Linked DNA regions of Homo sapiens: all the other regions are linked to region 3. Evidence: fine-mapped expression QTL. A gene starts in region 3. Each other region holds a variant in brackets. All regions are shown on one strand. Distances are from middle to middle. Region 1 has its middle 3.5 kb from the start of INTS4. Region 2 overlaps NARS2 (asparaginyl-tRNA synthetase 2, mitochondrial). Region 3 holds the start of AQP11 (aquaporin 11).

The links. PIP is the estimated chance that this variant, and not a neighbour inherited with it, causes the effect.
Region 1: its variant is fine-mapped to the expression of AQP11 in whole blood (INTERVAL, PIP above 0.99).
Region 2: its variant is fine-mapped to the expression of AQP11 in whole blood (TOPMed, PIP above 0.99).

What each region holds. Positions count from the first base shown.
Region 1 is chr11:77,996,003-78,000,358 of GRCh38, reverse strand. No RefSeq gene overlaps it. Among named protein-coding and RNA genes, the nearest start is that of INTS4, 3.5 kb to the right of the region's middle. RefSeq lists a silencer at 2,349-2,549. The variant A/G (reference allele first, on the strand shown) is at 2,045.
Region 2 is chr11:78,455,093-78,459,092 of GRCh38, reverse strand. All of the region lies in intron 11 of NARS2 (asparaginyl-tRNA synthetase 2, mitochondrial), which reads left to right. Among named protein-coding and RNA genes, the nearest start is that of LINC02728, 27 kb to the right of the region's middle. The variant T/C (reference allele first, on the strand shown) is at 1,556.
Region 3 is chr11:77,588,241-77,592,596 of GRCh38, reverse strand. AQP11 (aquaporin 11) reads right to left here and starts at 2,644. Exons shown (of 3, transcript NM_173039.3): 1 at 1,986-2,644. The coding sequence starts at 2,604. RefSeq lists a silencer at 2,668-3,297.

The DNA of each region.
Region 1 (4,356 bases), 410 kb before region 3:
GGTATAGGTGTAAATGTCTGTGCTCCTTGTGAATGTCCACCAGAGGGCACCCATTCTAGAAGAGGGTCTCAAAAATCAAGGGCACAATGATCCAACCTGTGGATGTCAGCCAGCCTCTTTCCCCAGCAGCTCAGTGCTTGCTCGATGGAGACATGAACAAAAATCCCTGCCATAATGGCAGGGATAGAGGCTATTCATGGGCTGCACAGTACAGACTTCCTCTCACCAAAGCTAATCTAGCCACTGATGTATGTCCAACCTGCCAATAGTAGAGAGAGACCAACACTAAGCCCCTGATATGGTATTATTCTCAGAGGGTACCAGGCACTTCTTGGTGGGAGGTTTATTGCACTGCAAATCAGTTAGCAAACTGCTGGGAAAAATTCTGGTGTTTCTGAGCAAATGGCATCAACAGCTTTGTTTGAGGATGTTTGCAAAGCTGCTTAGGAGCAGGGAGCAGATTTACTTATATTCCAGGGTAATAAAGCTAATATGGTCCTCAAATCCTGGAAACATTTCAGAGTGATAAAAAAAAATGTCCCCCATGGGGTGGAAGGCAGATTTGTTTCCTGACCAGTATAATAAAGTCTGCCTCCAGAGGACAAGTTTCTCAGCAGTCCTCTTTCAAGAATGGGAAGTTCCTAAGCTCAGTGTTCTCAGCTGTTACAGATCTATTGTGTGCATGGCATTCACCTGTATAACTGCCATGGTGCTTGGTTGGCAAGGAGAACTGAAACAAATTTGGAGTTCATGCCACCTGCTATGCTGTGAATAATCAACTGCCTAAATCATTTGGGCTTGTTGTCTCCTTACCAGATGAAGTGTGGCAACTTAACTTAGCGCTTAGGGAGTGCCTGACTGTGTGACAATTTCCTACCCCCAAATGTAATGACTTAAGACTACAGCTATTAATTATTTCTCACAGGCCTACAGATTGGGCAGTTCTGGTCTCAGCTGAGATCACGCATACATCTGTAGTCAGCTGGTGGATTAGCTGGGGCGGAGCCGGTCTCAGATGGCTTCAGGTGGGTCAATTTGCCTGTGTTCCATGTGGTCACTCACTCTTCAGCAGGCCAGGTTGGATTTGCTGTCATGGCAATGGTGGGGGTCCAAAATCAAACAAAAGGTCTGGGAAATTGTATGTGGGTGGACCTTGAGGCTTAGACTCAAAATTAGCACGCTGTCACTTCTACCACATTGTATTGGCCTGTCACAAGGCCAGCACAAATTCAAAGGGTGATAATATAGATTTCATCTCTTAATAAAAGCACCTTCAAAGTCACACTTCAAGGGGTATACATACCGAGAGGGGGAGATTTGGGGCTTTTTTTGCAATCATTCAACTACACACTGGATCCTTTCCATCATGGAAGGAGCAGTGATTTGTCCTCACAGGAATAGATTCATATTCCAAATTCAGATTTGACTTCCCTGCCTGCAATATTTCTGCCAGCTCCATCATCTATGGATGCCTCATTCATTATCATAGTACTCCACACATTGCTTCTGATTAAGGAGCTTATTTTATGCTGAGAAAATTGTAGTGAAGAAACTTCTTGGTCTTGCCAGGAACCCCATCATTCAGATGTAGGTGCTATAATAAAGCAGAATAATAACCTTTTGGAGATTCAGTTATAGCGCTAGTCAAGAGCCAACACATTGTGAGTTTGGGCCGCTGTTTGTGGCATATGCCTTATACCAACAGCTAAAATATAGTACTGCTTCTCCCACAGTTAGAACATGGGTCTGGTTATCAAAGGGTGGAGATAGGAGCAGTTCCTCTCTCTTTTACACCTAATAATTCATTTATGAATTCTTGGGCTCAGTAGGTTTGGAAGACTTACTCCCCAAGGGAGGAACAGTTGCCCTAGAGAACATAGTCATTGTTCATTACATTGGACATGTAATGAGACTGTCCCCAGACCACTGGGGCTCTTGTTCTGAACCAGCAGGTAGAGAAGAAGTTACTAAGTTGGGCTGCTGTTATGCAAGAGAGAGAGAAGACTGAAGCCTCACGGATTCATTCACAGGTGAACCTTAATGT[A/G]TTTTCATAAGTAATAATAAAAGTCAAAGGAAAATGGCATCAATACAATAAAGACGGTTTTTCAATTCAACATTAAAGAATGTGTGTTCTTGTTTCTATACCAATCTGGCTCATTGAGAAGTTGGCTATACCAACTTCTCAAATTTATTTATTTATAATTTAAAAAAAATTTATATAGCCAGGCGTGGTGGCTCATGCCTGTAATCCCAGCACTTTGGGAGGCCGAGGTGGGCAGATCACTTGAGGTCAGGAGTTTGAGACCAGCCTCGGCAACATGGTGAGACCCTGTCTCTACTAAAAATGCAAAAAGATTAGCTGGGTGTGGTGGCGCATGCCTGTAATCTCAGCTACTCATGAGGCTGAGGCAGGAGAATCGCTTGAACCTCAGAGATCGAGGCTACAGGGAGCCACGATTGTGCCACTGCACTGCAGCCTGGGTGACAGAGATAAACTCCATATAAATTTTTTTTTTTTAAAATATAGAGACAGGGTCTCTTTCTGTTGCACTGACTGGTCTGGAACTCCTGAGCTCAAGGGATCCTCCCACCTACCACCTCCCAAAGTACTGGGATTACAGGCATGAGGCACCATGCCTGGCCTCAACTTTATTTTTATTGCTTCTTCTGTTCCCTGCATGCACTTAACTTTCAACATGAACTGAAGTTCCTTTGGTTTTCGGAATGCACCAAACTCCTTCCTAAAGCCATTTATTTATTTATTTATTTATTTATTTATTATTTTGAGACAGGGTCTCATTCTGTCACCCAGGCTGGAGTGCAGTGGTGCGATCTCAGCTACTGCAATCTCTGCCAAGCGGGCTCAAGCAATCTTCCTACCTCAGCCTCCCGAGTAGCTGGCACTACAGGCATATGCCACCACGCCCAGCTAATTTTTTGTATTTTTGGTAGAGATAGGTTTTCACCATGTTGCCCAGGCTGGTCTCCAACTCCTGAGCTCAAGCTATCCTCTCACCTTGGTCTTCCAAAGTGCTGGGATTACAGGTGTGAGCCACCGCACCTGGCCGCCATGTATTTAATAACGATGATAATACTCTGTATCATTGATGCTATGATGCACATTTAATGTCTCCGAAATCAGGAGATGTTGGCCAATCGCTCATATGTATACTGAGTCGTAGCAGTTCATGGTGTCATCGCTTCGACTGAGCTCTGTGCAATTTTGGAATTACATGTGTTATTTTAAATTACTATTAAATATATCTCCAAATAGATTACCCTATAATTTGGCATTAAAAAGTTCTTATGTGCACAGGAAGACATGGAAACAGCAGTGCGAGGTAAGATACAAATCTATGTCTAAATAAGTTAAAAAGAGCTGTTTCTGTAAGTATACATAACAAATCTAAGCAATTAGAAACCATTGTATTTAATTTCAGCATTTCTTTTCTTAACATAATAAATAAAATATTGATTTTACAATTGCTGGCAGCTTAGATTTGATAGAATATGATAATGGTAATAATAGCAGCTAAGCTTTATTAAAGGTACTGTTTGCTAAATGTTTTTCATTTCCCTTGACATATTTGTATATCTTATCTCGGCGGTCTGGGATGCCTTTGTTTCTGGAAAAACTCATTCTTTTAAAGCTGCATTAGAAATAGTTTCCTTTTTTTTTCTTTTTTTTTTCTTGAGACAGAGTCTCGCTCTGTTGCTCAGGCTGGAGTACAGAGGCCCGATCTCGGCGCACTGCAGCCGCTGCCACCTGGGTTCAAACGATTCTCCTGCTTCAGCCTCCCGTGTAGCTAGGATTACAGTCACCCACCCCGACGCCCGGCTAGTTTTTGTATTTTTAGGAGAGACGGGGTTTCACCATGTTGGCCAGGCTGGTCTCGAACTCCCGACCTCAGGTGATCCGCCTGCCTCGGCCTCCCAAAGTGTTGGGATTATAGGGGTGAGCCACCGCGCCCAGCCTTTTTTTTTTTTTTTTTTTTTTTTGGAGACAGGGTCTCACTCCGTTGCCCAGGCTGGAGTGCAGTGGCTGGATCTCGGCTCACTGCAACCTCCACATCCCAGGCCCAAGCGATTTTCCCGCCTCAGCCTCCAGAGTAGCTGGGACTTCAGGCGTGGGCCACCATCATGCCCAGCTAAATTTTGTATTTTTAAAGTAGATTTCGCCATGTTGCCCAGGCTGGTCTCAAAACTTCTGAACTAGGTGATCTGCCCGCCTCGGCCTCTCAAAGTGCTGGGATTATAGGCGTGAGCCACCACTCCCAGTTTCCTCTAATTTTAGGAAAGCCTTCCCTGAGGCACTCTGAAGAAATTAGGTCTGTTTGAACCACATTCATTCCCGTT
Region 2 (4,000 bases), 870 kb before region 3:
AAATACAAAAAGTAGCCAGGCATGGTGGCAGGCACCTGTAGTCCCAGCTCGGGAGGCTGAGACAGGAGAATTGCTTGAACCCAGTAGGCAGAGTTGCAGTAAGCTGAGATCACACCACTGCAGTCCAGCCGGGGCAACAGAGCGAGACTCCATCTCAAAAAAACAAACAAACAAACAAAAAAAAAACCCACCATCAGATCTCCTTAGACTTACTACCACAAGAACAGTATGGGGAAAATATCCCCATGATTCAGTTATCTCCCACAACAAGTGGGAATTATGGAAGTACAATTCAAGATGAGATTTGGGTGGGGACACCCAGCAAAACCATATCAACTTCTTTTTCATTCATCGGTATATTCCTAGTGTAATGCCTGGGACGTGGTGGACACCTAGTATCCGTGTGGTGGATGGATGAATGGATTAATGAATCAAATCCAACAAAGTTTAAGACACACTGTCGACGAGTAGTGAGTTGATCTGCTGTGAATTTGCTGGGAAGCTAAAAAGCATCTTTAATTTTGTGAGTGGTAGCAACATAGCATAAAGGAAAGTCTAGTGGCTATAGAGTTAGACACTCTTGGGTTCAAGTCCCCACCCCACCTCTGTGTATTATAAACTATGTGATTTTACATATGCCACCTAATCTTTTTGTGTCTTAATTTCCTGATCTGTAAAAATGAGACCATAATATATTATGGAGTTGTGAGGATTAAATCAAGTAATATAAGAAAAGTAGATAGCTGTGTTTTAGGAAGTAGGTAGTCAATAGGTATGAAGTTGTCTCTTCCTACTTTCTAAATTTTAATAAAATTTTTCCCCTTTCATGTTTAGTTGACATGTAATAATTGTATGTATTTATGGAATATAGAATGGTATTTTGGTGTATGTATATAATACTGATCAAATTAGGGTAATTAGCATATTCGTCACCTCAAACATTTTTCATTTCTTTGTGTTGTGAACATTCAAAATCCTCTCATCCACCTTTTTGAAAATATACAATAAATTGTAGTTAACCGTATTCACCCTATATTGCTGCAGAATACCAGCACTCATTCCTCCTATCTAGCTATAATTTTGTATCTACTAACCAACCTCTCCCCACCCTTCCAAGCCCCCGTTACACACTGTTCTACTATTTCCCATGAGCTCAAAAAATGTTTTATTCCCACATATGAATGAGAACATGCAATATTTATCTGTGCCTGACTTTAAATTTTGATAAAATCTTATGATAAAGTACAATGTGTGTGTGTGTGTTTGTGTGTGTGTGTGTGTGTGTGTGTGTGTGTTGTTACATAATAACATAAGATTCCTTAAAAGGTAGTTCTCTCATAGATCGCACTCACAAGTATCTTACCTTCAACAGTACTGGGAAACCTTCATTATGACACAGTCTCTCTAGTAATGTGGTCTCACACCCTAAAGGCGTTATACTGGGACTTTAACATACTTCCATAATTTATGCAGTACTAGAGTATATAGCTTCTCAGAGCTAAACTATTCAAATATAATTTATTTAAACTTGTTACATTAGCCATAGAGAATAACA[T/C]TGGTACATTAGCAGTGTACATTTCTTTTCAATCCATTTGTATGAAGTGCCTGCTTCTATCCCTCATTTGTTGTTTTCTGGTGAAGGAAGAAGCTTTGGGCCAGATGACTAAATTCTGTTTCTTTTAGTAGGGCTGTAATAACTGGCTGTAAGTTCGCAAGAGTTCCTGTAATGGATGCAGTGCAGTCTTGAAAAAAATAAGACAGGTGTGTTTCATAGGTGCCTTCTTTAGGGAACCAAAAGAGAAGGATGGGGAAATATCTAATCTACACTTGTAACTTTTGGCCAGAGGGTAATAAATAGTAAAATGGTATGTTTTTACAGTTATAATTTATCTTCCTTTCTCCCCACCTCTCAGTAGAAATGAAGGTATGCGCTGTGGTGTACTGAAAAGTACACAGGATGCAGAGTGGTTCTGGGTTTGAAATCTAGATACCTTACTAGTTACCTGTGTCACCTCAGGCAAGTCTCTGTGATCTTTCAGCCTCAATTTCTCCCTCTGTATAATCAGAGAATTGGATTAAGTGACCTCTAAAGTATTACCTCTCTAAGATTCTCTGATTTCCTGTAGCCTAAGTTTTTCTTCATATGCATGGATAAGACTAACTTATAAATTACTGAGCATATTTGATCATTTGAAAGGGACAGATCATGGGAAAATGAATCTAAGCAAATATGCAAAATGCCATATGCCTCTGAGGCTGGTCTCCAGGTAAGTCCCTCAAAGCCAGGTGGCAGATGTTCAGCTGGGGGAGTGGCTTCACAGAGAAGAATAGTCTTTTATTCTACACACGTGTAATTAGGAAAAAGTGACTGCCCCTCAGTCCTTGATGAGATGCCACAATCACCAGGTAGTGTTCTAATTTTCAAAATTATATCAGTATTACTTAGCAAACCAGAGAAAGGTCAGCATTAGTGGGCATTCAGTAAAGTACATACTGTGAAGTCAACTCAGAAAGGAGAATACTCAGCCAAGGGGTGTGCAATAAATTTCCCAGAGCTGTGGCTAATTAACCAACCTGCATCAAAATAGCTCGAGCCACCAACCAACAGAAATAGTGATGAAGGGAATTGCCAATTTTCCCCATATCTAGGACTAAAGAGAATCCTAGAAATTTTTGTCAAAATTGAAAGTATCCATTTCAGTCTGTCGTAAAATACTTTGAGATTCTTTATCATGACATATTTTATATTAATACTTTGAATTGTAGAGTTAGGGAACATAGGGAAGAGAAATCCTTTTATGTGTGTGATACAGACTTCTAAGGTTTTGTTACCAAACTGTTTCTCCCATTTCAGTCTTCCCAGTGTGTCTTAATTGAACAAGTTTGGTTAAAGCAACTGAGATAAAAGTGAACGTAAATGCCTCCTAAGTCTTTTGGTAGAGTAAGAGTGTCGAGGAATCTTCATTATTAAAAGTAGCAAGGAAAAGACATTTAGGGAGTTGAGAAATTATTTATATTGTCTCACTTAACTAAATAAGATTAACTTTGTAAGATTAGAGATTACTTAAAACATGGTAGACAGAGGAAAATGGAAGAAAAGATTAACAAAGATTAAATTTTTGACGTTCCAAATTGACATCTATTATTGAGTACCCGTGTGGCAAGCATAACGTTAAAACATTCAAAAGAGAAAACAATAATGTTTATCGAGTATGTGCCGATAATTAACTTTTATCCCTTTCTTACAGATGAGGCTGCTACCTCTCAGTGCAGCAGTATAGTCACTCATGCAAAATCACACCGCTAGCAGGTATTGAAGCTAGGCTGTAAAGGCAGAAATACAGCATATATGGCAGCTTCATTAGAATCCTGATCTTTCTGGGAGTGAAGAGTTTGTGTGGGGTGGCAGGAAGAGCTATGGACTTAGAGCCAGGAGACTTGGGTTTTGTTCCTGGATATACCACTTGATCTTTCTTGTCCTCAGTATTCTCAGGGGATCATAGTCAATCTCTGGTGATAGAGGTCAGGAAAGAGGTTACTTTTGGTAGGGGTAGTAACTAAAAGAAGACCTTAGGAGGACTTTTTTGGGGTACTGCTATTGTTCAGTTTATTGATCCGTATGGTGCTTCATGGTGTGTTTGTGAAAATTTATAGAACTGTATACTAGTTATTTGTGTACTTTTTACACATATTTTATACTTTAAGTTTACTTTAAAAGGGAATTACACACTTGTATCATCACAGGTTTGTTGTGGAAATCAGATGAACAAATGTTTTTAAAATTGCTTTAAAAATTAAAATTCTATGCTATAAAAATAATGGAGTAAGGAATTATTGGGTGATAAAGATGGCTAGACAAGATAGGAACAATTATGGAGAGATTGGAGTGTTACAGATAGCTTGGGCTTTATCCAGTAAAAAACAGAGAGGCATTGTATGTATTCTAAGATACTGGCAAGATGAAAAAATTAACCTGACATATAGAATGGATTGGGGAAGG
Region 3 (4,356 bases):
CATAAATATGTATTAAAAGTAGACAGAAAGAATATCAACTTCAGGTTAATCAAGAGAGGGAAGAGGAACATAGGTATTGAAAAATCCAACTGTAGTTAATGTTCTATTGATGTAAAAATTCTTTTTTAAGTTTTTACTGCTTTTAATTGTAGAAATAAAGAGCTAAACCATAGCATAACTCTTTTTGCAGTGACAATTCTGTTCATATACAGGGGATGTTTCTGCTTTAGCTAAAATCTAAAACTTCAATAAATAAGCAACTACCCACCAATCCCTCAAATATGCCTGTACTTGTCACTCTTTTTCTCTTTTTCTTTTTTTTTTTCTTTTGAGACAGACAGGGTCTCTATAACCCAGGCTGGAGTGCAGTGGCACTATCACAGCTCACCACAATCTCAACCTCCTGGACTTGGGTGATCCTCCCACCTTAGCCTCCCAAGTAGTTGGGACTACAAGTGCGCACCAGCACGCCCGGCTAATTTTTGTATTTTTTGGAGAGATGGGATTTCTCTTATGTTGCCCAGGCTAGTCTCGAACGCCTGGGCTCAAGCGATCCACCTGCCTTGGCCTCCCAAAGTGTTGGGATGACAGGTGTGAGCCACCGTGCCCGGCCCCCTTCACTCTTCTATACCACTTATTTCCATTTATGTCTACTTAAAAAGTGGTACTAGACCTAAAGAAGGGGAAATTGATTGGGAAGGCTTGCTTTCTTTCTTTTTTTTGAGACAGAGTCTCACTGTTGTCGCCTGGGCTGGAGTAAAATGGCGCGATCTCAGCTCACTGCAACCTCCGCCTCCCGGGTTCCAGCAATTCTCCCGCCTCAGATTCCCGAGTAGCTGAGATTACAGGCGCCCACCACCATGCCTGGCTAAATTTTTTTTGTATTTTTAGTAGAGACGGGGTTTCACCATGTTGGCGAGGCTGGTCTCAAACTCCTGACCTCAGGTGATCCACCCACCTCGGTCTCCCAAAGTGCTGGGATTACAGGCGTGAGCCACCGCGCCCGGCTGAAGGCTTTCATTTTTACCCTAGAAGGTCAAGTACGTGTTTAGGAGTCCTTATCTTGAAGTTTGCTTCTAGTCATTGTTTCACTTTTAATGGGCAGAAGATTATTACCACAAATTTCCTTTGTTGTTATTTCTGCCTCCACAGTCTTTTATAATTTAGATGTAGTCCCAATAAAGATATTCTGTTGTAATCATTTAAAATGACACATTTCATCATTAAATACTTGTGTTTTGGATTTCCTCCTCCCACTTAGGACTAGATTGCCCACTGCATCTGAGATCTGTCAAAGTAAACAAATGGTTTAAAAGAAATCAACAGATTTCTCAAGAGTTATATTTTAAAAAGCATCTTTAATTTGAAGCAAGTTATCATTTAAACATTTTTCTTAATAGGTCACTTAAAAGTTCATGTATAACTCAAAATGAATTATTAAGGAAATAAGAAATTTCATAACTCAAAATGAATTATTAAGGAAATAAGAAATGACTTTAAATCATTTATAGGACTAAAATGGAACTACAAAATTTCTACCCTCCGCTCTTATACTAACCAATCATGTGCCTTGTGCTTTAAATCGAAAGGAACTTTGTAAAGCCAGGATCATTTTTCAGTAAGAGTATCCGAAACGATCTATACCACCTTGGCATGAAGAAAGAGGCAGTTAATAAGTTATCTTTCCTTTCTACCATTAAAACAATCCCTTTGTAGGATATCTGAACCCTTGGCAATATCTCACAGTATCTCAGTTTCAGCACAGAGGTGGCTCCTTTCTCTGGGTGTTCAAAGCAGCACTGCATGAAGGCTCTACGTGTCGGCCCTACTGGTTAAGAACGGGCTGCAAAATGGTTAGAATAACGGGGATACCAGCATTTACATCATAGCGGGATAGACGGTTTCAAATGTATTTTAGTAAAGAACTTACAGCCTCATGTCATAGAGGCTCTGGAAGTGCCAAGTATTTGGTGAGAATGACAAACCTGCATAGACCAAAAAGGTGATGAGTGCAGCCAGCAGGTGGATACGAAGCTTGGTTCGGACTTCCTGGAAGTGCAGCAGAGCGCTGTGGAAGAGAAAGGAGCAGACGGCCTCTGTGATGACCGCTTTGAGCAAGTCGACTCGGATGGGATTCTTGCAAGCGAAGCTCCTCTCGCTGACGTGATACTGGGTCAGACCCAAGCTCCACAAGGCGCTTGTGCAGTACCTGCTGCACAGGGCACTAACCAGCTGAGCCAATAGCCTCACCGCACCCGTCTCGGGGGACATGCCCCCCAGCATCATCTGCATCATCACGCCGCACGGGTTGCTGGACGTGCCCACCAGAGTCAGGCCATGCACAAGCGAGAAGAAGTAGACGAGCGTCAGCGTCCAGGTGGGGTGCGCGGGGTGCTGTTCGCTCAGCAGTTGCAGCTCGTGGGTGCAGCAGCAGAGCTGGAAGGTGGCTAGAAACTCCAGGACGAAGGCGTGGGCCACCGGCCTGTGCAGCTGCTGCCGGGCGACTACGCGGGCCAGCCCCATGAGCAGCACCACCGACAGCATCAGTCCCAGCGAGGTGCAGGTGTCCTGCAGCTCGGACCGGAGCCCCAGCAGCGGCGACATGGCTCCGTCGCCGCCTGAGCGGGTTGCGGGCTCCGGCTCTGGGTAGGAGGCGGTCTCCAGGCCCGAGTCCGAAGTCCGCAGCCCCTCCCCTCCTCACGCCCCTCGGGGCGGGACGAGCGGGAGGCTCCCGAGCGGCACACTTAAGAAGTCCTCCCCGCCTCCCCGGCTTGGCGCTGGGGTGTTGGAACCAGAGCCGAGGAGGCGGGGAGGCGGGGAGGCGGGGAGGCGCGGGGAGGCGCGGGGAGGCGAAGGGAGGTAGCCTAGGGCGCCGGCCGCAGGGCCAACGGTCAGCCGAGCCCACCGCGCACTCACCCTCCGCAGTCTCCCTCAGGGCCTTGTAGGCGGGCGCGGCGGCGGAGGGCCGGCGCGGCGCGGTCGACGCAGCGCTCTTGGTGCCCACTGCGCACGCGTGCTGCGGCCCTTGCGCCCCTGCGGGCGGTGACACCCGGACCACGGGGCGGAGAGGAGCGGCACGGCGCGGCGGAGCTCTGATGGTTGCTTTGCAGCGAGGACCTTAGAGTTTTTCTTTCCCCGCTCCACACTGTAAAACCGTGGAGCTGGAAAGACCGCTGAAGGCCATCTCACATAGCCACCTCGTTTTTATCAATGGGCGACTGAAATTGAGAGGGGAGACGCGGCGCAGGGGGCGGGTGAGTTAGTGGGCGTAGACCGGTGCGCAGGGCCTCCTGGAGCCTTGCTTTTCTTCACCTGCCAAAAAACATTTCTAAAAATGGTGGTAATATATGCCAGATAAAATTCGCCACTTTAATCAATTTAAGTGTATATTTCAGTGGCATCGATTACCCTCACAGTGTTGTTCAACAGTCACCTCTTTTTTCCAGAACTTGAGCGGTGATTCTTCAAAGTGTAGCCTAGTTTTAGCATGTGACTGTCTATAACCTTTGGCATGAACTCTTTACGTATAATATGAAACAGTTGTGTCTTACTGTTACATGCACTCTTCGTGAAGAGGAAACAACAGGTAACTGGAGAGGTCTGTTTCCAAGAACTGGGGGTCCTGGCGCACCTCTTCCATCTGCTTTGAAAGCAGGAATACGGCTGCGTGAGGTGGAGCGCGTCCGGAGTCCCAGCACGGAGAGGCTTAGGTGGGAAGACCGCTTGACCCCAGGAGTTCCAGGCTGCAGTGAGCTGAGATCGCGCCACTGCACCCCTGCCTGGGCCACAGAGCGAGACGCTGTTTTTAGAAACAAAAACAACAACAAAAACCGGGCGCGGCTGGGCGCGGTGGCTCACGCCTATAATCCCAGCACTTTGGGAGGCCGAGGCGGGCGGATCACCGGAGGTCGGGAGTTCGAGACTAGCCTGACCAACATGAGAAACCCCCGTCTCTACTAAAAATACAAAATTAGCCGGGCATGGTGGCGCATGCCTGTCATCCCAGCTACTCGGGAGGATGATGCAGGAGAATCGCTTGAACCCGGGAGGCAGAGGTTGTGGTGAGCCTAGATCGCGCCATTGTACTCCAGCCTGGGCAACAAGAGCGAAACTCCGTCTCAAAAACAACAACAACAACAACAACAACAACAACAAACCAGTCAAACAAACAAAAAACAAAACATGAAAGCCACTTAGTACAGTTCCCAATACGTAGAAAATATTCACTAAGTGGTAGCTTACAGTGGAAACAGCAGGTTTCAGCAGCCAGAGTGCACGGCTCTTGCCACCGCATTCCAGTCCCAACAGCTTGTCCCCTGGGGTGGCCCATTGTAGGTGCAGCACTTTGGGAGTCCG